Linked DNA regions of Homo sapiens: all the other regions are linked to region 4. The links come from fine-mapping of genetic effects on gene expression. A gene starts in region 4. Each other region holds a variant in brackets. All regions are shown on one strand. Distances are between the middles of the regions. Region 1 overlaps SPI1 (Spi-1 proto-oncogene). Region 2 has its middle 8.9 kb from the start of PSMC3. Region 3 overlaps SLC39A13-AS1 (SLC39A13 antisense RNA 1). Region 4 holds the start of SLC39A13-AS1 (SLC39A13 antisense RNA 1). Region 5 overlaps PTPRJ (protein tyrosine phosphatase receptor type J).

Evidence for each region. PIP is the estimated chance that this variant, and not a neighbour inherited with it, causes the effect.
Region 1: its variant is fine-mapped to the expression of SLC39A13-AS1 in whole blood (TOPMed, PIP above 0.99).
Region 2: its variant is fine-mapped to the expression of SLC39A13-AS1 in whole blood (INTERVAL, PIP above 0.99).
Region 3: its variant is fine-mapped to the expression of SLC39A13-AS1 in whole blood (INTERVAL, PIP above 0.99). The same link has a PIP of 0.9 or more in blood mononuclear cells.
Region 5: its variant is fine-mapped to the expression of SLC39A13-AS1 in whole blood (INTERVAL, PIP 0.95).

Annotation. Positions count from the first base shown.
Region 1 is chr11:47,357,030-47,361,144 of GRCh38, forward strand. It overlaps SPI1 (Spi-1 proto-oncogene), which reads right to left. Exons shown (of 5, transcript NM_003120.3): 3 at 2,824-3,011; 4 at 1,815-1,977. Among named protein-coding and RNA genes, the nearest start is that of MYBPC3, 6.4 kb to the left of the region's middle. The variant G/T (reference allele first, on the strand shown) is at 1,760.
Region 2 is chr11:47,433,322-47,437,436 of GRCh38, forward strand. No RefSeq gene overlaps it. Among named protein-coding and RNA genes, the nearest start is that of PSMC3, 8.9 kb to the left of the region's middle. The variant AT/A (reference allele first, on the strand shown) is at 2,096.
Region 3 is chr11:47,381,340-47,385,454 of GRCh38, forward strand. It overlaps SLC39A13-AS1 (SLC39A13 antisense RNA 1), which reads right to left. Exons shown (of 4, transcript NR_182308.1): 4 at 276-2,493. Among named protein-coding and RNA genes, the nearest start is that of SPI1, 4.8 kb to the left of the region's middle. The variant CAGAT/C (reference allele first, on the strand shown) is at 2,238.
Region 4 is chr11:47,406,905-47,411,019 of GRCh38, forward strand. SLC39A13-AS1 (SLC39A13 antisense RNA 1) reads right to left here and starts at 2,378. Exons shown (of 4, transcript NR_182308.1): 1 at 2,048-2,378. It overlaps SLC39A13 (solute carrier family 39 member 13), which reads left to right and starts at 1,686. Exons shown (of 10, transcript NM_001128225.3): 1 at 1,686-1,758; 2 at 3,183-3,491. The coding sequence starts at 3,191. RefSeq lists enhancers at 968-1,790, 2,079-2,945, 2,946-3,810 and a silencer at 1,199-1,988.
Region 5 is chr11:48,024,844-48,028,958 of GRCh38, forward strand. The region is part of intron 1 of PTPRJ (protein tyrosine phosphatase receptor type J); the gene reads left to right. Among named protein-coding and RNA genes, the nearest start is that of PTPRJ, 46 kb to the left of the region's middle. RefSeq lists an enhancer at 3,737-4,115. The variant CT/C (reference allele first, on the strand shown) is at 2,153.

The sequences.
Region 1 (4,115 bases), 50 kb before region 4:
CTCACACACACTTATGCTTACAAACTCATGCTCACACACATGCTAACACTTCACACATGCTAACACCTCACACATTCACACCCACTCACATGCTCACACCTCACACATGCTCACACCTCATACCTCACACACATGCTCACATCTCACACCCACTCACACACACCTGCCCACACATATCTGCACACACACATGCTCACACATATGCTCACACATCACACATACCTGCTCACATACATGCTCACACCTCACAGCTGCTCACTTATCACTCACACGCTCACACCAGCTCTTTCACACCTCATTGACACCTGCTCACTCATATTTCACACCACTTACACTTGCACCTCACACCTGCTCACGCATGCACATACATTCTGCTCATGCATATCCACTTGCATGCTTACACGCCTGTTCACACACAACCACTCAGACACCTACTTGCACACTCAAATGCTCACACACATTCTGCTCTCACATCCACTCACAGCAGCTCACACTCATGCATGCTCACACACACCTGCTCTCACACTCACACATCACACCCATTCTCTTGTTTTTGAGATGGAGTTGCTCTTGTTGCCCAGGCTGGAGTGCAATGGCACGATCTCGGCTCACTGCAACCTCCACCTCCCGGGTTCAAGCAATTCTCCTGTCTCAGCCTTCCAAGTAGCTGGGATTACAGGCGTTCACCACCACGCCTGACTAATTTTTGTATTTTTAGTGGAGACGGGGTTTCGCCATGTTGGCCAGGCTGGTCTCGAACACCTGACCTCAGGTGATCCGCCTGCCTCAGCCTCCCAAAGTGCTGGGATACAGGCGTGAGCCACCACGCCCGGCCCACTCACACCCATTCATGCTCACACACTCATTCACACACCTGCTTTCACACATACACATACCTGTTCACACACATGCACACCTGCTCACACACGCAGGTGCTTAAGCACGTCCTCACCCCCCACACACACCTGCTCACACATGGGAACACACACATGCTTACACATGTTAAAACACATATCCACTCACATACATGCACAGACCTGCTCACATATACACATACATGCTCACACACCCCAGCTCACACCTTCCTGCTCACACACACCTGCTTACATACACCCTCAAACATGTTCACACCCACTCACACATCCACTGACACACACCTATGCCCATTCACACACACTTATATCACACACATCCCTGCTTACATACACATTCACACATATACACTTGCTCACACACCTGCTGTCACACCCCCACTCACACATATCACTCACACATGCCTGCTTACAGCCACTCACATATACCATGCTCACATCCCTGCTCACACAGGCACACCCACACACTGCTGACACCCACTGACATCATACGTGCACAGCTGCTCACACGCACTGAAATACATTCATGTGTTGACAGACACACAAACATGGCCACACCCACTCTCAGCCACACCAGCTCTCACATTCACCTTCTCACACACCCACTCACACAGCCACTCGCACACATGCACCTGCCCGTACCTGTGCACACGCACCCTCTGCACACTTGCTCACACACACCCAGATGTACACACACTCATGGCACAGAGAGACACACACACCTGGCACACTTCATGGAGATGCCCGTATGCACTACACAGCAGATACACACACACAGAGACAGCCACAGACAGCCCCACAAAACACACACACTGGCAAACATGCACACACACACACACGCGACTCGGTGGCGTGGCTGCTGGGTCAGTTGGCCTGGCTGGGTGGGG[G/T]CAGGGCACAGACACGGCCAGGGTCGGGGCCAGGGTGGAGGGCCAGGTGCCCCACCTGTCTCCCCAGGCAGGAGCCCAGGCCCGGGCTCCAGGCCATCCGCCTCGCCGTCAGACACCTCCAGTGGGGGGCTCTGCCGCTCGCCCTCCTCCTCATCTGAGCTGGGCTGGGCTGGGGACAGGGATGGGTACTGGAGGCACATCCGGGGCAGGTAGGAGACCTGGACGGTGGGGGAAGGAGATCAGAGTCAGGAAGGGCCAGCTTACAGCTCAGGGGGGCTGGGAGGGAGGTCAGCTGGGGAGAGAAGGAGTGCAGAGGGCAGGGGACAATGGCAGGCACAGGAGACTGGAGGAAGAAGACCAGGGAAAAGGGGGGCCAGTTGAGGTGCTGCACATAGGGTGCAGGCTGTGGGGCGAGGGGTGCTGACATCCAGCCCACCCAGCCCTCCCAGCTGGGCCTCCTGGTTTAGGACTGTGGGCACCGGGGAAGTGGTGCCTTGTTCTCCTCCCTGCAGCGGTGCTGTGTGGACCCGCATTAGGCTGGGGTCAGAAGAGGGCATGCTAGGGACCGGTGCGTTGGGTCTGGAAGGGGGTTTCATAGGTGGGATGATGAGTGAGTGGAGGGACCCTGGAGGTCAGTAGGGGTGGTAGAGGTCAGCAGAGGTCACTGATCCGGGTTAGGGTCAGTAGGGAGGGTCACTGGGGAGAGGCAGGGTCAGTAGAGGTGTTCAGTGACTTGGTGTGGGATCCATGAGGGCTAGTGAATGGGGGTGGCAGACAGTGAGGCCCAGGAGGGCCCACAACAAGGCGTTGGGATGGGGAGGCTTGGTGAGGGTGCGAGAATTATCTGGGGTCTGTCCATACTCGGGGTGAGATGAGATAAGGGGTGTGGGGTCATGAGGTCACTTGGGGGGTCAGGCGGCAGCCGTTGGAGCTCCAGCCGCCGTTGGCACTGTGGGGCAGGAAGCTGAGTTGGGTAAGAGCCTGTGTCAGCTTCCTGTGAAGCTCCCGGGCCCCACCACAGGCCTGGCAGTCTCCTGGGGGACGGGGCAGGCGGTGGCATGCACCTGGTGGCCAAGACTGGGATGGGGTGGCACCATGGGGGTATCGAGGACGTGCATCTGCTCCAGCTCCATGTGGCGGTAGAGCTGCTGCAGCTGCGGGGGCTGCACGCTCTGGAGCTCCGTGAAGTTGTTCTCGGCGAAGCTCTCGAACTCGCTGTGCACGTGGTGGGGGTGGAAGTCCCAGTAATGGTCTGTGGGGGACAGCCAGGCAGTATGGGGTGAGCTCAGGGTTGGGCAGGGCAGGAAAAGGTTATAGTAACATTAAATAATACTGCCAGGCCATATGGGGCCTAACCATCTCGTTTAACCCTCGCCACCTGCATGGTTACTCTAGGCCTGCATTTTATAGATGAGGACACTGAGGCTTCGAGCGGCTACATAGCATGCCCAAGGTCAAAAGCATCCGGGTCACAGCCAGGACTCAGGGCTGAAGCAAAGCTCGTGTTCTCAGCAATTCCATCCTGATTCCTGTGCAGTCACACAGACCGAGCGTCTAATCCTGGCTCTGCCATTTACTTGCTGTGTGACCTCAGGCACATATGTGGCCTCTCTAACCTCAGTTGAGTTGCCTGTAAAATGGGGATCACAGTTATTGGGAAGATACGAATGAGTACACATTTGTAAAACACCTCGCACCAGAGCCGGCCCTCAGGGAAAGTTGATTCCCCTCCTATCCTGTTAAAACCTCCCAGCCAGGGCCGCGCGCGGTGGCTCACGCCTGTAAACCCAGCATTTTGGGAGGCGGAGGCGGGCGGATCATGAGGTCAGGAGATTGAGACCATCCTGGCCAACGTGGTGAAATCCCATCTCTACTAAAATACAAAATATTAGCTGGGCGTGGTGGTAGGTGCCGTAATCCCAGCTACTCAGGAGGCTGAGGCAGGAGAATCGCTTGAACCCGAGAGGTGGAGGTAGCAGTGAGCCGAGATTGCGCCACTGCACTCCAGCCTGGCGACAGAGTGAGACTCTGCCTCAAAAAAAAAAAAACTCGGCCGGGCGCAGTGGCTCACGCCTGTAATCCCAGCACTTTGGGAGGCCGAGGTGGGTGGATAACGAGGTCAGGAGATCAAGACCATCCTGGCTAACACAGTGAAACCCCGTCTCTAGTAAAATACAAAAAAATTAGCTGGGCGTGGTGGCGGGTGCCTGTAGTCCCAGCTACTCAGGAGGCTGAGGCAGGAGAATGGTGTGAACCCAGGAGGCGGAGGCTGCAGTGAGCCGAGATTGCGCCACTGCACTCCAGCCTGGGCGACGGAGCGAGACTCCGTCTCAAAAAGAAAAAAAAAGAAAAAAGA
Region 2 (4,115 bases), 26 kb after region 4:
CAGGAGCCAAAGTCCTTCCCAAGTCCTGCATGTGTTCACACCACACTCTCCTCCTGGCCTCCACTCCTCCTCCTTCCCTCCTGCTCACTTACAGGCCTCCCTGCTGCTCCTGAGCACATCAGGCAAGCTCCTGTCTTAGGATTCTGTTCTCTAGGAGAATGCTCTTTCCAGGAAATCTGCTTAGTTCAATCTCTCACCTCCTTTAAGGTTTCACTCACATGCCACCTTCTCAATGAGGCCCAGCCTGTTTCGTTTTTTTTTTTTCACAGGGTCTCACTCTGGCCCAGGCTGGAGTGCAGTGGTGCCATCTCAGCTCTTTGCAGCCTCTGCCTCCTGGGCTTAAGTGATACTCCCACCTCAGCCTCCCAAGTAGTTGGGATTACAGATGTGCACCACCACATGTGGCTAATTTTTGTATTTTTAGTAGAGACAGGGTTTTGCCGTGTTGCCCAGGCTGGTCTCGAACTCCTGACCTCAAGTGATTTGCCTGCCTCCGCCTCCCAAACTACTGGAGTTACAGGCGTGAGCCACCACACCCAGACAATTAGTGCCTTTATAGGAAGAGGAAGACAGAGGGAGGGAGGGAAAGAGACTAGGGGGTGGGGGGCAGATCACCTGAGGTCAGGTGTTCGAGACCAGCCTGGCCAACATGGCCAAATTCTGTCTCTACTAAAAATACAAAAATTAGCCGGGTGTGGTGACACGTGCCTGTAATCCCAGCATTTTGGGAGGCTGAGGCAGGTGGATTGCTTGAGTCCAGGACTTCATGACCAGCCTGACCAACATGGTGAAACCCTATCTCTACTAAAAATACAAAAATTAGGCAGGCATAGTGGCACATACCTGTAATCCTGGCTACTTGGGAGGCTGAGGCAGTGAGCCAAGACCATGCCACTGCACTCTAGCCTGGGCAACAGAGCGAGACTCTGTCTCAAAAATAAATAAATACATAAAAAGAGAGAGAGAGAGGGCTCAATCTTGCTGTCACCACAGCAGCATGGGGGGAAAGTCTTGTAAGAACACAGAGAGAAGGGCAAGTCAGGAGGAGAGGCTTCTTGAATTTTCTGGCACCTCGATCTTGGATGTCCTGTCTCTAGAACTGTAAGTTTTAGTTGTTTAAGCTTCTCATCCTAAGGTGCCTTGTTATGGCAGCCTGAGCTGCGACATTCACTGTTACTCATTATCAGTGGCTGCTGGGAGCCCATCCAAGCTGGCTCCTGTGGCCTTTGAGTTTTCCTCATTATTCTTTCAACTTCCCTTGCTTTCTGGCACAAAATAGCTCTGGCTCATCTTGTACTCTCTATGACCCAGCCCTGGAATCAGGCCCTTGACCAAAGAGCCTTGGTTCCTTTTTGTGAAACATGGTGTTTCAAAGCCAAGCCCTGGCTGCTGGGTGAGCTCATTGCTGTTGGCATATCACTGCGCCCAGGCTGGTGGACACGCACATTTATAACTATATTTATTTCTAGATCTACCCGTATATTTTGAAATCCATGAGTTCACACTGATTCTTACAATTCTAATTCAGCGCCACAGGGTCCACTCTGGTTCTCTCCCTTTCCATATTTGTAATTCTCTCCATCAATAGTGAGAAAGCGGCCAGGCACGGTGGCTCACACCTGTAATCTCAGCACTTTGGGAGGCTGAGGCAGGCGGATCATGGGGTCAGGAGATCGAGACCATCCTGGCTAACACAGTGAAAACCTGTCTCTACTAAAAATGCAAAAAATTAGCCGGCATGGTGGCACATGCCTGTAGTCCCAGTTACTCAGGAGGCTGAGGCAGGAGAATTGCTTCAACCCAGGAGGCAGAGGTTGCAGTGAGCCAAGATGGAGGCATTGCACTCCAGCTTGGGTGACAAAGCAAGACTCCATCTAAAAAAAAAAAAAAGTGAGAAAGCTGCCTTCCACTGTCCTTAATCTACCTACTTTTTTTTTTTTTTTTTTTGAGATGGAGTCTCACTCTTGTTGCCCAGGCTGGAGTGCAGTGGTGTGCTCTCAGCTCACTGCAACCTCCACCTCCTGGGCTCAAGGGATTCTCCTGCCTCAGCCTCCAAGTAGCTGGGATTACAAGTGTGCACCACCACGCCCAGCTA[AT/A]TTTTTTTTTTTTTTTTTTTTGAGACAGAGTCTTGCTCTGTCACCCAGGCTGGAGTGCAGTGGCAGGATTTCGGCTCACTGCAAGCTCTGCTTCCTTGGTTCACGCCATTCTCCTGCCTCAGCCTCCTGAGTAGCTGGGACTACAGGCGCCTGCCACCACGCCAGGCTAATTTTTTTTTGTATTTTTAGTAGAGATGGGGTTTCACCATGTTGGCCAGGCTGCTTTCGAACTCCTGACCTCAAGTGATCCACTTGCCTCGGCTTCCCAGAGTGCTGGGATTATAGACTGTGAGCCACCGCACCTGACCTACTTACTTGTTTGATCAACCCCCTCTGTGTACCCAGTGTTCCACTGCCACTCCCTTCCACACACAGAACCCTCTTCACTCCATCCTTGACCTAATGCCCCCTGCCAGGATGCCCCAAATCATGTGCATGGCCTATTCGCTCTACTCAAGCTCTGATGCCTCACACAAACCTTCACCAATTTGGATGCCTCCTTACTCTGGTGAGGTCCCAATGGCCCACGCCAGGCTGCCCCTCCTTGGGCTTGGTCTCTGACACTTCAAAACAACCCAACCCCATGTGTGGATTCTGTCCTCTCTCCACACAGGTTCTGACCTCTCACCCCAGGCCTTGCCCTGTGTGGACACTCTTCAGCCTGCTTAGATTCCAGTGCCTCACACCAGGTCACCCCTCCACACAGATGCTTGTCTTGCTCTGTCCCACTTAATGGTTTTAGAACTGGTTTAGGGAAGGGGGTGAACATGAGGAAGAGGGACCAGGCTCTACTCTTTTTTCTTTTTTGAGATGGAGTCTCGCTCTGTTGCCCAGGCTGGAGTGCAATGGCACAATCTCAGCCCACCACAACTGCCACCTCCCAGGATCAAGCGATTCTCCTGCTTCAGCCTCCGGAGGAGCTGGGATTACAGGCGCCCACCACCGCGCCCAGCTAATGTTTGTATTTTTAGTAGAGACGGGGTTTCACCATGTTGGTCAGGCTGGTCTCGAACTCCTGACCTCAGGTGATCCAACCTCCCCTCTGCCTCCCAGAGTGCTGGGATTACAGGTGTGAGCCACTGCGCCAGGCCTCTACTCTTATTTTTTTTTTTTTGAGACAGAGTATTGCTCTGTCCCCCAGGCTGAAGTGCAGTAGTATGATCTTGGCTCACTGCAACCTCTGCCTCCCAGGTTCAAGAGATTCTCCTGCTTCATCCTCCCGAGTAGCTGGGACTACAGGTGTGTGCCACCATGCTGACTAATTTTTGTATTTTTTTTTTTCTAGAGACAGGGTTTTGCCATGTTGTACAGGCTGGTCTTGAACTCCTGGGTTCAAGTGACCCACCCACCTCGGCCTCCCAAAGTGCTGGAATTACAAGCAGGAACCACTGCACACAACCAGGCTCTACTCTTTATTGTTACAAAGAACTTATCACATTATATGAGCCTGCTAGGACTGTCATTAGGCAGGTGAGGCCTTTGGGAGGCAATTAGGTCATGAGGGTGGAGCCCTTATATATGGGATTAGTGCCCTTATTAAGGGACTGTGCCTGGCATGGTTGTTCTCGCCTGTAATCCCAGCACTTTGGGAGGCCAAGACAGGTGGATCTTTTGAGGTCAGGAGTTAGAGACCAGCCTGGCCAACTTGGAGAAACCCTGTCTCTACTAAAAATAGAAAAATTAGCCAGGCATGTTGATGCGTGTCTGTAATCCCAGCTACTCAGGAGGCTGAGGCAGGAGAACTGCTTGAACCCGGGAGGCGGAGGTTGCAGTGAGCTGAGATCTCACCACTGCACTCCAGCCTGGGCGACAGAGTGAGACCCTGTCTCAAAAAGAAAAAAAAAAAAGGAATGCAGAGAACTTCCTTGTCCCTTCCACCATGCAAGAACACAGCAAGAAAACTCAATCTGTGAGCAAGAATGTGCGCCCTCACCAGACACCCAATCTGCAGGTGCCTTGATCTTGGACTTCCCAGCCTCCAGAACTGTGACATATCAATTCCTGTTGTTTACAAGCCAC
Region 3 (4,115 bases), 26 kb before region 4:
ATTATTTAGCTCCTACTTATACATGAGAACAGGCAGTATTTGACTTTCTGTTTCTGCATTGTTTCGCTTATGATAATGGCCTCCAATTCCATCCATGTTGCTGCAAAGACATAATTTCATTCTTTTTTATGGCTGAATAGTATTTCATTATATATATATATATATATAAAAATATAACATTTTATTTATTCACTCATCCGTTGATGGACACTTAGGTTGATTCTGTGTCTTTGCTATTATGAATAGTGCTGTGATAAACATAAAAATGCAGTATCTTTTTGGTATAGTGATTTATTTTCCTTTGGTTAGATACTCAGTGAGATTGCTGGATCAAATGATATTTCTTTTCCTTTCTTCTTTTCTCTCTTTTTCTTTTTCTTTTGAGACTGAGTTTCGCTCTTGTTGCCCAGGCTGGAGTGCAGTGGCACAATCTTGGCTCACTTTGCCTCCCGGGTTCAAATGATTCTCCTGCCTCAGCCTCCTGAGTAGCTGGGATTACAGGCGCCCGCCACCACGCCCAGCTAATTATTGTATTTTTAGTAGAGATGGGGTTTCATCATTGTTGGCCAGGCTAGTCTCAAACTCCTGATCTCATGTGATCCACCTGCCTCGGCCTCCCAAAGTGCTGGGATTACAGACGTGAGCCACCATGCTTGGCCAGTTCTTTTTCTTTTGAGACAGAATGCCACTTTATCACTGAGGCTGGAGTGCAATGGCGTGATCTTGGCCCACTGTAGCCTGGACCTCCTGGGCTCAAGCGATCCTCCCGCCTCAGCCTCTGGAGTAGCTGGTACTATGGATGTGTGCCACCTGTAGTCTCATCTAATTTTCTGTATTTTTTGTAGAGATAGGGTTTCACCATGTTGCCCAGGCTGATCTTGAACTCCTGGGCTCAAGCAATCCACCTGCCTCAGCCTTCCCAAATGTTGGGATTATAGGTGTGAGCCACTGCATCTGGCCAAAAGGTAGTTCTGTTTTTAGTTCTTTGAGAAATCTCCATACTCTTTTCCGTAGAGGTTGTCATTTAATCACTTACTTTTTATTGAGTGTCTTCCATGGTCTGGGCCTAGTAAGGGGGATAGACATGAATGAGGCATACTCGGAGCCTCCAGCAGCTTACAGGCCTGCAGAGGGTCATGTGAGCAGATAGTGGGGCAAGAGAGGAGGTGCCAGGTACACTTGGTCTCAAAGGTGCATTAGGGAACCATTGATTGGGTCAGGGTCCCAGATAGGATGGCTTAGGGAAGCGTGCAGGGGGAAAGCATGTCTGGCTGAGAATCAACTTAAGCAAAGGAAACGAAGAGGAAAACAGGAAGCCACCATCTTTGCAGCTGGAAGCAAAGCAGGACAGGAAAGCAAAGAGCCTTGAGTGCCAAGCCAAGGAGCCTGAGTCGTGTGCAGGGATGGCTGTGGAGTCTTTGCTGGTTGTAAGCAAGGAGTATGGGGGCTGTCCTCCGTGGGTGCAGCCAAGAAACACAGTAGACTGTGTGTTCCCGAGGCCTAAGATTCAAGGGGCTCCAGGAGAAGGAAGATATCCCATTGCCTCAAGTATGGCCAAGCTCAAGGGGCCTGGGTGAGGAACTCCATAAAAGAGATCCAGGGTCAATAACCTCTGGAAATAGGCAGAATGTCCTCTGCCCTCTGGGCAATGCTAGAGTGTCCTCCCAACTCCTCTTTCCACTCCTCCCCCTCCCAAAGTACATCAGAAGCCTCATCCCCTTACATCCCCAGGGACCCGTGGTAATTCAAATTCTTGGGAATAGTAGGACCCAGATTCCAAGAACAGGAACGGTTTGGTAATCCATAACCTCACGGTTAGTAGTTCCTTAAAAAGGAAAAGAAAAAAATTTTTGAGTGCCTGGCACCATTCTGGGTGCTTCCACCCTATGATCTCACATCACCAAGACAGCCATCTGTTGAACTGAGGCCCAAGAGACCAGTGACTGGCCCAGGGTTGCACAGCATGTGTGGGTAGAGAGCTGGGGCATGAACCCTGGCTTCTGGGGCTCTAGGAAGGGCTGGGTCTTCTGGGGAGGGAAGGAAGCTAGAGGAAGAACGGAGAGAGACTGAGAAGCTGAGGCAGGGAGCAGGGAGGAAGGGGAGGGAGGAGAAGAGAGGAAGGGAAAGAGAAGCAAAATAGCAAGATCAAAGGAGGGAGCAGAGAGAAGGGAGAAACAGGACAAGAGGTGAGGAGGCAGCACGAACCTCAGGCGAAAAAGAGGAGAGCAGGGCGAAGG[CAGAT/C]GGAGGAGGAGGAGGACAGAGGAGGGACAACGAGGAGGTTTTGGGGAGACAGGGACAGTGGCTGGCTGGAGGTGATGGGACCCCAGAGGAACACATTCCCAGCTTCTCCCTCCTGCAGCAGAGCAAAAGAGGGGCAGAGAAGGTCCCTGACTTGCAGGAGGTCAGCAGGTGCATCGTGCTGGAATGTGGCTCCATTTCATTCTGGTCAGCAGGAAATTGGTTTGAAACCAAAAATCTTGGACGCTCTAGGGACTGAAAAACAAAAACATCATTTTTAATTATTTTATTTTTTGAATAGATAACATGTGCACATGGTACAAAATTCAAAAGGTACAAAAAAGGTAAACAACTGCCCAGTTCCCCTTCCACAGACTAGCCCACTTGTTACCTGATCTTGTGTTTTGGTCTAGAAATCATCTACACAGCGTGTAGCAGATATATTTTTAAAAATTTTACACAGAGGGGGCCGGGCGTGGTGGCTCACGCCTGTAATCCCAGCATTTTGGGAGGCCAAGGGGGGTGGATCACGAGGTCAGGAGATTGAGACCATCCTGGCTAACACGGTGAAACCCCATCTCTACTAAAAAAAAAATACAAAAAATTAGCCGGGCGTGGTGGCGGGCGCCTGTAGTCCCAGCTACTCGGGAGGCTGAGGCAGGAGAATGGTGTGAACCCGGGAGGCGGAGCTTGCAGTGAGCCGAGATCGTGCCACTGCACTCCAGCCTGGGCGTTAGAGCGAGACTCCGTCTCAAAAAAAAAAAAGGAAAGAAAAAAATTTTTTACACAGAGGGGGGCACATTAAACATATTGTAGTTCCCTTGTTTTTTTTCCCCAATATACATGTCACACCCATGTAGCACTGTCTTGTCCTTCTGAGTTTTTTCCATTTATAGTTTTTGTGGGTACATAGTAGGTGTGTTTATTTATGGGGTACATGAGATATTTTGATACAGGCATAAATTGTGTAATAATCACATCAGTAAATGGGGTATCCACCACCTCAAGCATTTTTCATTTCCTTGTGTTACCAACATTCCAATTATATTCTTTTAGTTATTTTTAAATACACTATAAATTAGTGTTGACTGTAGTGTCTTTTTAATGGCCGTATAGTATTCCACTATTTGGATTTACCAGGATATTTTTAAGTCATGAGAGACATCGTTCATTTAGAAGAGTAAATACAATATTTATGTGCAGTTTAAAGAATAATTATAAAGCAGCCGGGTGCAGTGGCTCATGCCTGTAATGCCATCACTTTGGGAGGCCGAGGCAGGCAGATCACCAAGTCAGGAGATTGAGACCATCCTGGCTAACACGGTGAAACCCCGTCTCTACTAAAAATACAAAAAAAAAAATTAGCCAGGCATGGTGGCACGGTCTGTAGTCCCAACTACTCGGGAGGCTAAGGTAGGAGAATGGTGTGAACCCGGGAGGCAGAGCTTGCAGTGAGCCGAGATCGCGCCACTGCACTCCAGCCTGGGCGACAGAGCAAGACTCCGTCTCCAAAAAAAAAAAAAAAAGATAATTATAAAGCTGACATCTATGTAACCACCATCCAGGTAAAGAAATAAAAAAGTTGCCAGAAAGGCCGGGCGCGGTGGCTCACGCCTGTAATCCCAGCACTTTGGGAGGCTGAGGTGGGCAGATCACGAGGTCAGGCGATCGAGACCATCCTGGCTAACACGGTGAAACCCCATCTGTACTAAAAATACAAAAAAAAATTAGCCGGGCGTGGTGGCGGGTGCCTGTAGTCCCAGCTACTTGGGAGGCTGAGGCAGGAGAATGACGTGAACCTGGGAGGAAGAGATTGCAGTGAGCCGAGATCGCGCCACTGCACTCCAGCCTGGGTGACAGGGCAAGACTCCATCTCA
Region 4 (4,115 bases):
TAGGCCTCCCAAAGTGCTGGGATTACAGATGTGAGCCACCGGGCCTTAGGTATCCGATGGGAATTCCAGGCCAGGTGGGAGGAAAGGGTAGTGCATTGGCACCAAGTAACGTTTCTGGCTGGGTCTTGCCCATCCCCTTGTTGGGTGGCCAGGAGCGCTCAGCCTCCAGAGGCAGGAATGCTGACTGTGTTATTGTGAAATCATTTGCATATTGTGAAGTGCTTTGCATAAGATGGAGCGCTTTTGCATACAGGGAGGGGGGCATTTTAGAAGTCCTAGGGCAGGATCCCTGAGTAGCTTTTCTTTGCCAAGAAACTAACCCAGGGATTCCATTTTGGAACTCAGGGAGGGAACAGAACGTCCTGGCAGTTGTATGGGCCCGGTGGGGTGAGATGGACAGAAAGCTTCAGAAGACAAGCTGGGCCACCAGGGAGAAGTTGGCGGTCTAAGGAAGGCCAACAGTGCAACATGAAGTGGGACAGGCACCAGAGGCAGCCCTGAGAGCTGAGTGTGCTCTCAAGAGCCCCAGCAGAGGGGAAAGTGACAGAGTAAATGGTTGGAGCTGCCATGGGAGGCTGATGAGGGTCAGAGACTTAAGAGACCTGTACTCAGTCGCTATCTCTGCCCAAGTGAGTACCCACATGCCCCTTCCTGAATCTTCTCCTGTACTGGCTGATTTCCAGAGAAGAATACAAACTCGAAACGCCAAGCCAGACTCCCACTGCTGTTCAGGACCTAGACGTGAGAAGTGGTATCACATACTCTGGCTTCAGGACACCCAGGTTTGAATCCTGGCTCTGCCATCTGTGCCACTGTGTGACCCTGGGCTAACAGTACCCACCACAATGGGATAATATGAGGATTCAGTGAGATAGTGCGAGTAAAGTGAATAGCACATAGTAGGTGGTCAGTAAATTGCGGTTATAAGAACTGCTATCCAGTGTTTGCTGCCTTAGTCTAACCAAAGAGGTCAGGTCTAGCTTCCTCCAGGTGAGGGAAGCACAGAGCCCTCGCCTCCCAGGTTTGGAGTTCCCATCAGCAGGGTCCAGCCACCATGCATTGGACCCCAAAGGGTTACAAGCCCTGGAGACAGTGGCCTGAGGTTCCCAGTGAAAAACCAAAGCATAAAAATAATTCGATGAGTAAGAATAAAATTCCCTCTTCTGAGGTTCCCGGGGCCAGGCCCCTCCCTGCGGCAGGCACTTCCCCTTTCCCTTGCTCATGGAGGAGCCAGGCCGGGCTGACTCAGAGCAGGAGCGCACAGTAGTCCTCCCAGCCCGACCTGGGCGGCGTGGTCTGGCGGCCGGGCGCGCCCCCGTGCGGCCACGGGCAGACTGCGGCCCTGGACGGGAAGCGGCGGCCAGATCCGCAAGCCCCGCAGCCTGGTCGATCGCGGTCCCCGCAGAGCCGCCGCTTCCGTCCCTGCCCAGCCTGGCTGAGCGCGGTGCGTGTGGCTCTCTCACTTCCGACCGACCCTCCCCTCCGGCCCGCAGCCCTGCCCAAACGGAAGTGCGCCCTCTACCCGGGTCCCCCACCGCCGCGAGGCGGAAGCGCCCTCCCGCCGCCACTCCCCCCGACCCCGCGGCACGCGGCGCCTCGGGTTCCGGACAGGCCCCTTGTGACGTGGCCGCGCGCCGGGGGCGGCCCCGGGCCGGGGGCCGGGCGGCCGGGCGGCCGGGCGGGGCAGAGCCTGGGCGGGGCGCGGCACCGCAGCTGGATGGCTGGGGCCGCCCGGATCGCCGCCGCCGCCGCCGCACGGTGAGTGCCAGCAGGACCCTCGGGGCCCGCGCCCCGGGCGTGATGGACCCGGCCGATCCCTCGCCCCGTCCGACTGGTCCTCATCAGACCTGGGCCGGCTCCCAGGACCCGGGAGTCAGGCTCGCCCGCTTCGGCCTCCTCTCCCCCATCGCTCCGCGCCCCACGCCCCATCCCTCCCTCGCTGTCCTCTCCGCGTCCCACCCGCCTCTCTCTAGCTCTCTCACTCTCTACTTTCCTCTCCCCTTGGACTCTCCGTGTATTCCCTCCCGCTAGCCTGTGGTCCCCTCACCTCTGCGTGACCGCCTCGTCCTGGCCCAGTCTTGCCTGTGGTCCCCAGTGGAGCCCCGCTGGCTTCATCAGTGCCCCTGATTAGTTAAGGCCTGGAGGTCCTAGACATGGGCATCTCTGCCACCACCCAGAGGCAGCTGCTTTCTTCCCCTCCCATCTCCATCAGAAGGTGAGGAAACTGAGGCAGGGACATCACCAGCTCAAGGTCACAGCCAGCCTGAGGCAGAGCAGACCACATTTAAACCTCATGCCCGAGTTTCCAGATGGAACTTCTCGCTTGGTTGACTCACGTCCACATCCTGTGATCGGCCGGCTGGGCACATTCCTGCTGCAGGGAGCCCCAGGCCTTCCCTGGCACAGGCAGGGCCTCTGCGCCTCCTCATGCCGGGTACATCCACCTGCACTTTCAGGCTTATCTCGTCCTCACAGCTGAGGCAGGTGATATTGATCCCTGTCCTGCAGATGAGGGCACTGAGGCTCAGAGGGGGGGCTTCAGAGATTTGCCCAGAGTTAGACAGCTCAAAGTGCAGCATAGAATTCACCGTGGGGGCTCTAAAGCCTGCGCTATACAAGAGAGAGGCATCCCCTGGCTAAAGGCTCCTTCCTCATCAGCCCCATCTCCTGTTGCCCTCAGTGCCCTGGGGACATTGGTCTCATGTCCTAGGAAGAAGCGTGGATGGTCTTGCCCTGGCTCATCTGCTCAGTTTCCCCACGTATGTCTCTCTGAATCCACCCCATCCCCTTAGAAGGGGTGCCTCAGTCTCTGGGGTGTCGCGGGCGGCAGGGCCTCCCCTGGCAGCCAGAGACACCCAGCTGGGCCGGGCCGTGCCGCCGGTGGCTGAGGAGAGCCAGCCAGCGCCTCACCCTGTCATTAGGGAAAGTTTAGCCTCAGGCGGAGGTGCTGACACAGTCTGGAGCTGCTCAGAAGGAAAAAATACGCAGTGCTCAGGAGTAGGGTGTGGAGACACAGGGCCCCATTGCTGTGCACCCAGCATTTGGATGCTCAGACGCTCTGGCAAGGACAGCAGGAGGGTGGATGCCAGGGTCCCTTGCGGGGAGGAGGGAGGCGCCACGTTTCCTAAGCAGGTGTGCGGCCAAGGCTGTAGCTCATATAGGTGGCCTTTTGTGTTTTTCAGTACGTGGCATGCCTGGATGTCCCTGCCCTGGCTGTGGCATGGCGGGCCCAAGGCTCCTCTTCCTCACTGCCCTTGCCCTGGAGCTCTTGGAAAGGGCTGGGGGTTCCCAGCCGGCCCTCCGGAGCCGGGGGACTGCGACGGCCTGTCGCCTGGACAACAAGGAAAGCGAGTCCTGGGGGGCTCTGCTGAGCGGAGAGCGGCTGGACACCTGGATCTGCTCCCTCCTGGGTTCCCTCATGGTGGGGCTCAGTGGGGTCTTCCCGTTGCTTGTCATTCCCCTAGAGATGGGGACCATGCTGCGCTCAGAAGGTAGGTGACTCTCCGGTGGCGCCCAGGGCTGGCCAGGGTGTGGGAAGCATGCTGCTGCTCTTCTTAGGAGACCCCAGGTCACAGAGTGTCTGAGATGGAGGGAGAGGATAGAATAGAACTTCTCCCCTTGGTCCTGTAGGAGCTATCTAGCCAGGGGCGGCTGGCTCTGGCTTCCCCAGGAAGCTATGAGCACCTGGTAGCAGGGCCTGCCCCTGGGGAGGGGGTCTAGGAGATGGGGATGTGGGCACGGGTGGGAGCTTTGTCCTGACTACCCTTTTGTACCATGAGCATGTACTGCCCGTTCACAAATAACATGTTGTAACAAAACACGCAGGAGAGCTCTAGGGAGCTGCTAAGAATGCACGTGCCTATCCCCCACCTAAGAGGGGTGGACCAAGGCCCTGGGAATCTGTTAGAAACGAGCATCCCAGGGGCTGGTGCTGCCAGCTGGATGCTCAGGAACCATTCACTTACCAGATGGTTACCCAGCAGCTCTGTGCCAGGCACTGGGCTGAGGGCGGTGCCACAGCTGTGAATAGAGCCCTGCTTGGGCCATGGTCAGGCCTGTGCTCAACCCTCAGAGCAGCCCTGCGGGGTCAGTGCAGGGAGCACCTGGATTATTAG
Region 5 (4,115 bases), 620 kb after region 4:
TCTCATTCAGCTGCATTTCTTGAGCTGTGCTTAGAAGGCCTGCCACACAGTAGGGAATCAGGAACAGTCGCGTTTACAGAGCTCTCGGGTGATAGAAGGGAAAGTAAAGGTATATTAAATTTCTTCTAGGCTTGCTGCCTAATCCCCTAAGGGGCCTTCTCATTTCTTTCAGCAGTGCCATCTGGCAGGCCTGAGAGTATATGGGAATAAGTGGGGTGCTGGATCTTGTGGGCAGGCTATGGGATCTGGGAAAGGGGTTAGCACCTGGGCCTGGAGGGACCTGGAATCTAGGGGGGGCATACATCTAAGCTAAATGTGGCTGTGGCTTGCAAACTCAGAGGCCTTTCGGGCAGCCTGGTGAAATGATAAATGGGCAGTTGCTGTTTATTCTCAGTCCTAGAGATTAAAAAGAGGTGCCCCCATTGGAAACTGGAGGTTACATGTTCTACCCAAAGGGAGCAGCTGCCAGTCGGCTTCTTGCGATGTGAAAGTACAGCCCCAGAAAACCCAGGTTAAGTGATGTCCCCTAATTTTTAAAAGTTGGCAACCAATTCAACTATAAAATCATGCCTGCTGGCCTCTGAGCAGTAGGCAGGGCTGGTGTATGCCGGAGGCCACCAGGGGACATAACACCTGCCATAGGGTCAGAATAGGTGGGTGTTAGTCACCATCCAGATGGTCAGATACCGGAATTGCCACAGAAATGAACATGACATGCAGAGCAGGCAGAGCAGGTGCCAAAAGTTGGTATCAAGGAGGCGAAGGTCAAGTTCTTTGCCCACCAGAAAGCCTTCTGTTCCTTGTCTCCTTCCCTTCCTGCACCTCCAAGGACTCTCCACTGCTCCCTACAGCTTAAGTCCAAATTTCCCTGTCTGGCATTCAAGGTCTTCCATACCTTCCTTACAAGTGCCCTTTAGGCGCTCTAAATGGCGCGTCAGCTCCTATGTGTGGCCTCAGCTTAGCAGTCCAGTGTTCCCTCCCCCTGAATCCCTCCAGACTGCCCAGGCTGCATCTGCCTCAGACAGCCGGGTGTTCCCAAGACATGCTGCACTTTCTTCCCTCTCTGATTTGCTCATGCTGCTCCTCTTCCTGGAATGCTCATCCCCCCAATTATGGAAATCCCACTCCCCACTCATCCTTCAAAAGGCTCTGGACAAAAGGCACATTCTCCCTGAAGTCGGCTACCCTCCCGACTCTGTAAATTTGGAATAAATCACATCTTTCAGCTTCTATAGCACTCACCCTGCATCTCCACCACAGCCCTTATGACATAGCTGTTGAGAAAGGTCTGTCTTCCTTGGTAGATGATGAGGTCATTGTGGAAGGTTCGAGTCTTACTTACTGTGTCCACAGCATTTGGCTCAGGGCAACAGTCAACAGAGGCTTAGTGACTTAGACACTTGATGGTAGAGTATGGAAAACTGATTCTCATGAGGAAGGTGCTTAAGGTCTTTGGTAAGCCTGGGAAAGGGGCAGTTGGCTGGAACAGAGGGTGTGAGAGGAGCAGGTAAAGCTGGATCCAGCTCTCTTTCAGCCCAAGGCAATACCTAAAACCCTATCTCTGACTTGGAAAGGCAGTATCCTGCTGTCTTCCTGCTGTGGCCATGAGCCTCACTGGGGCTTGACTTGAATGTTAGGACTTTTTTTTTTTTTTTGAGACGGAGTTTCGCTCTTATTGCCCAGGCTGGAGTGCAATGGTGCGATCTTGGCTCACCGCAACCTCTGCCTCCCAAGTAGCTGGGATTACAGGCGCCCGCCACCATGCCCAGCTAATTTTTGTATTTTTAGTAGACATAGGGTTTCACTGTGTTAGCCAGGATGGTCTCCATCTCCTGACCTTGTGATCCGCCTGCCTTAGCCTCCCAAAGTGCTGGGATTACAGGTGTGAGCCACCGTGCCTGGCCATGAGTAGGTTCTTTAGTGGTGATTTGTGAGATTTTGGTGCACCCATCACCTGAGCAGTATACACTGAACCCAATTTGTGGCCTTTTATCCCTCACCTGCTTCCCACCCTTTCCCTCTGAGTCCCCGAAGTCCACTGTGTCATTCTTAATGCCTTTGCATGAGAGGGAAGGCTTTTTAAAGGGCCCTTTTCAAGGTTTGAAATAAGGCTCCATGACAATGGCCTGATTTGGATGGGTCTTGGAATACC[CT/C]TTTTTTTTTTTTTTTTTTTTTTTTTGAGACGGCGTCTCGCTTTGTTGCCCAGGCTGGATTGCAGTGGCGCGATCTCAGCTCACTGCAAGCTCTGCCTCCCAGGTTCACGCCATTCTCCTGCCTCAGCCTCCAGGGTAGCTGGGACTGCAAGCACCTGCCACCGCGCCCAGCTAATTTTTTTTTGTATTTTTAATAGAGATGGGGTTTCACCGTGTTAGCCAGGATGGTCTTGATCTCCTGACCTTGTCATCCGCATGCCTCGGCCTCCCAAAGTGCTGGGATTACAGGCATGAGCCACCGCGCCCGGCCCGGAATACCCTTAAAATATAGCCAGAAAGGGCTGAGGATGGGTAAGAACCCAGGATATAGAGTCTTCCCATAAAAGGGAGGGCCATCATGCAAGATGAACAACTTGGTCCTGATATGGATGGGGCTAGAATCTCCGTATTGTTGCTAATAAGGTGGAACTGAATCCCCTCCCTGTTCCCCAACACAATAAAACTTCAGTGTCGTCTGGGTGCAGTGACTCACGCCTGTAATCCCAGCACTTTGGGAGGCTGAGGCAGGTGGATCACCTGAGGTCAGGAGTTCGAGACCAGCCCGGCCAGTGTGATGAAACCCTGTCTCTACTAAAAATACAAAAAATTAGCTGGGCATGGTGGCACATGCCTGTAGTTCCAGCTGCTCAGGAGGCTGAGGCGGGAGAATTGTTTGAACCTGGCAGGTGGAGGTGCAGTGAGCAGAGATCATGCCACTGCACTCTGGCCTGGGCAACAGAGTGAGACTCTGTCTCCAAAAAAAAAAAAAAAAAAAAAAAAAAAAAAATCTTCAGTGCAGGGCCTGTCTGCTCTCCAGGGAAGGCTGCAGTATTGTCAGGTTTGTTTCTTTTTCCCCACAAAACTGCTTCGGAGAGCTCTTAGGTCCCAAGTTTGCCTGCATCCAGGGTCCAGATGCTTCCAGGGTCCAGATGCTTCCAGGGTCCAGGCAGTGAGTGGAAGTGAAGGAGGCTCCTCTAGTGAAAGAAAAAGGCATCCAGTGTTAATAGTATTTCTTCCCAGTTGCATGGGGCTTGCATATTAGAGATAAAGGAAACATCTTAGCTACTACTGAGCCATAAGTGGTCTCACCTTTCTTGAAACATAAGGCCGTCTTGGTTTGTTGTTCTGTTTTGTGCTTTTCACAGAGGCATGGACACTGAAAGACGTTTCTCTGACAGTGGAGATATAGGACTGAAGAGTGACATGGCTTGCAGAGCACTACCTGTCCCCCTAATCCACACTGTCCTCTCTCCTCATGGGCAGCCTGAGAATGTGGACCCAAGGTAGCCCATCATGCAGTTCTTCATGAAATCTGGAAATCTTGGCATTTCATGGGAAATCTCATCACTGCTAAAGTAGGCTTAGATTTGTTTTAAAACCTTGTGTGGGCTGGGTGCAGGGCATTTTACTCTTCTGTGGTAGGAGAGTAGACTGGCCACAGCCCAGCCCAGAATCCTTAACAAAAGGTTAAGCTGCTGGGCGTGGTGGCTCACACCTGTAATCCCAGCACTTTGGGAGGCTGAGGTGGGTGGCTCACCTGAGGTCAGGAGTTTGAGACCAGCCTGGCCAACGTGGTGAAACCCCGTCTCTACTAAAAATACAAAAATTAGCCAGGTGTGGTGGCGGGCACCCATAATCCCAGCTACTTAGGAGGCTGAGGCAGGAGAATTGCTTGAACCCAGGAGGCAGAGGTTGCAGTAAGCAGAGATTGTGCCACTGCACTCCAGCCTGGGCAACAAGAGTGAAACTCCGTCTCAAAAGCAAACAAACAAACAAAAAACCTTGTGTGGGTGAATCAAACACGTCTGCAAGCCTGATTCAGCCTGTAGCCCACCAGTTTGCAGCCTTTGTTTAGATCCGTAGTGGAGAAAGAGGTTAAAGCTACAAGTTAGGACCCCTGAAAATGAAAGATGGTTTGGAAGT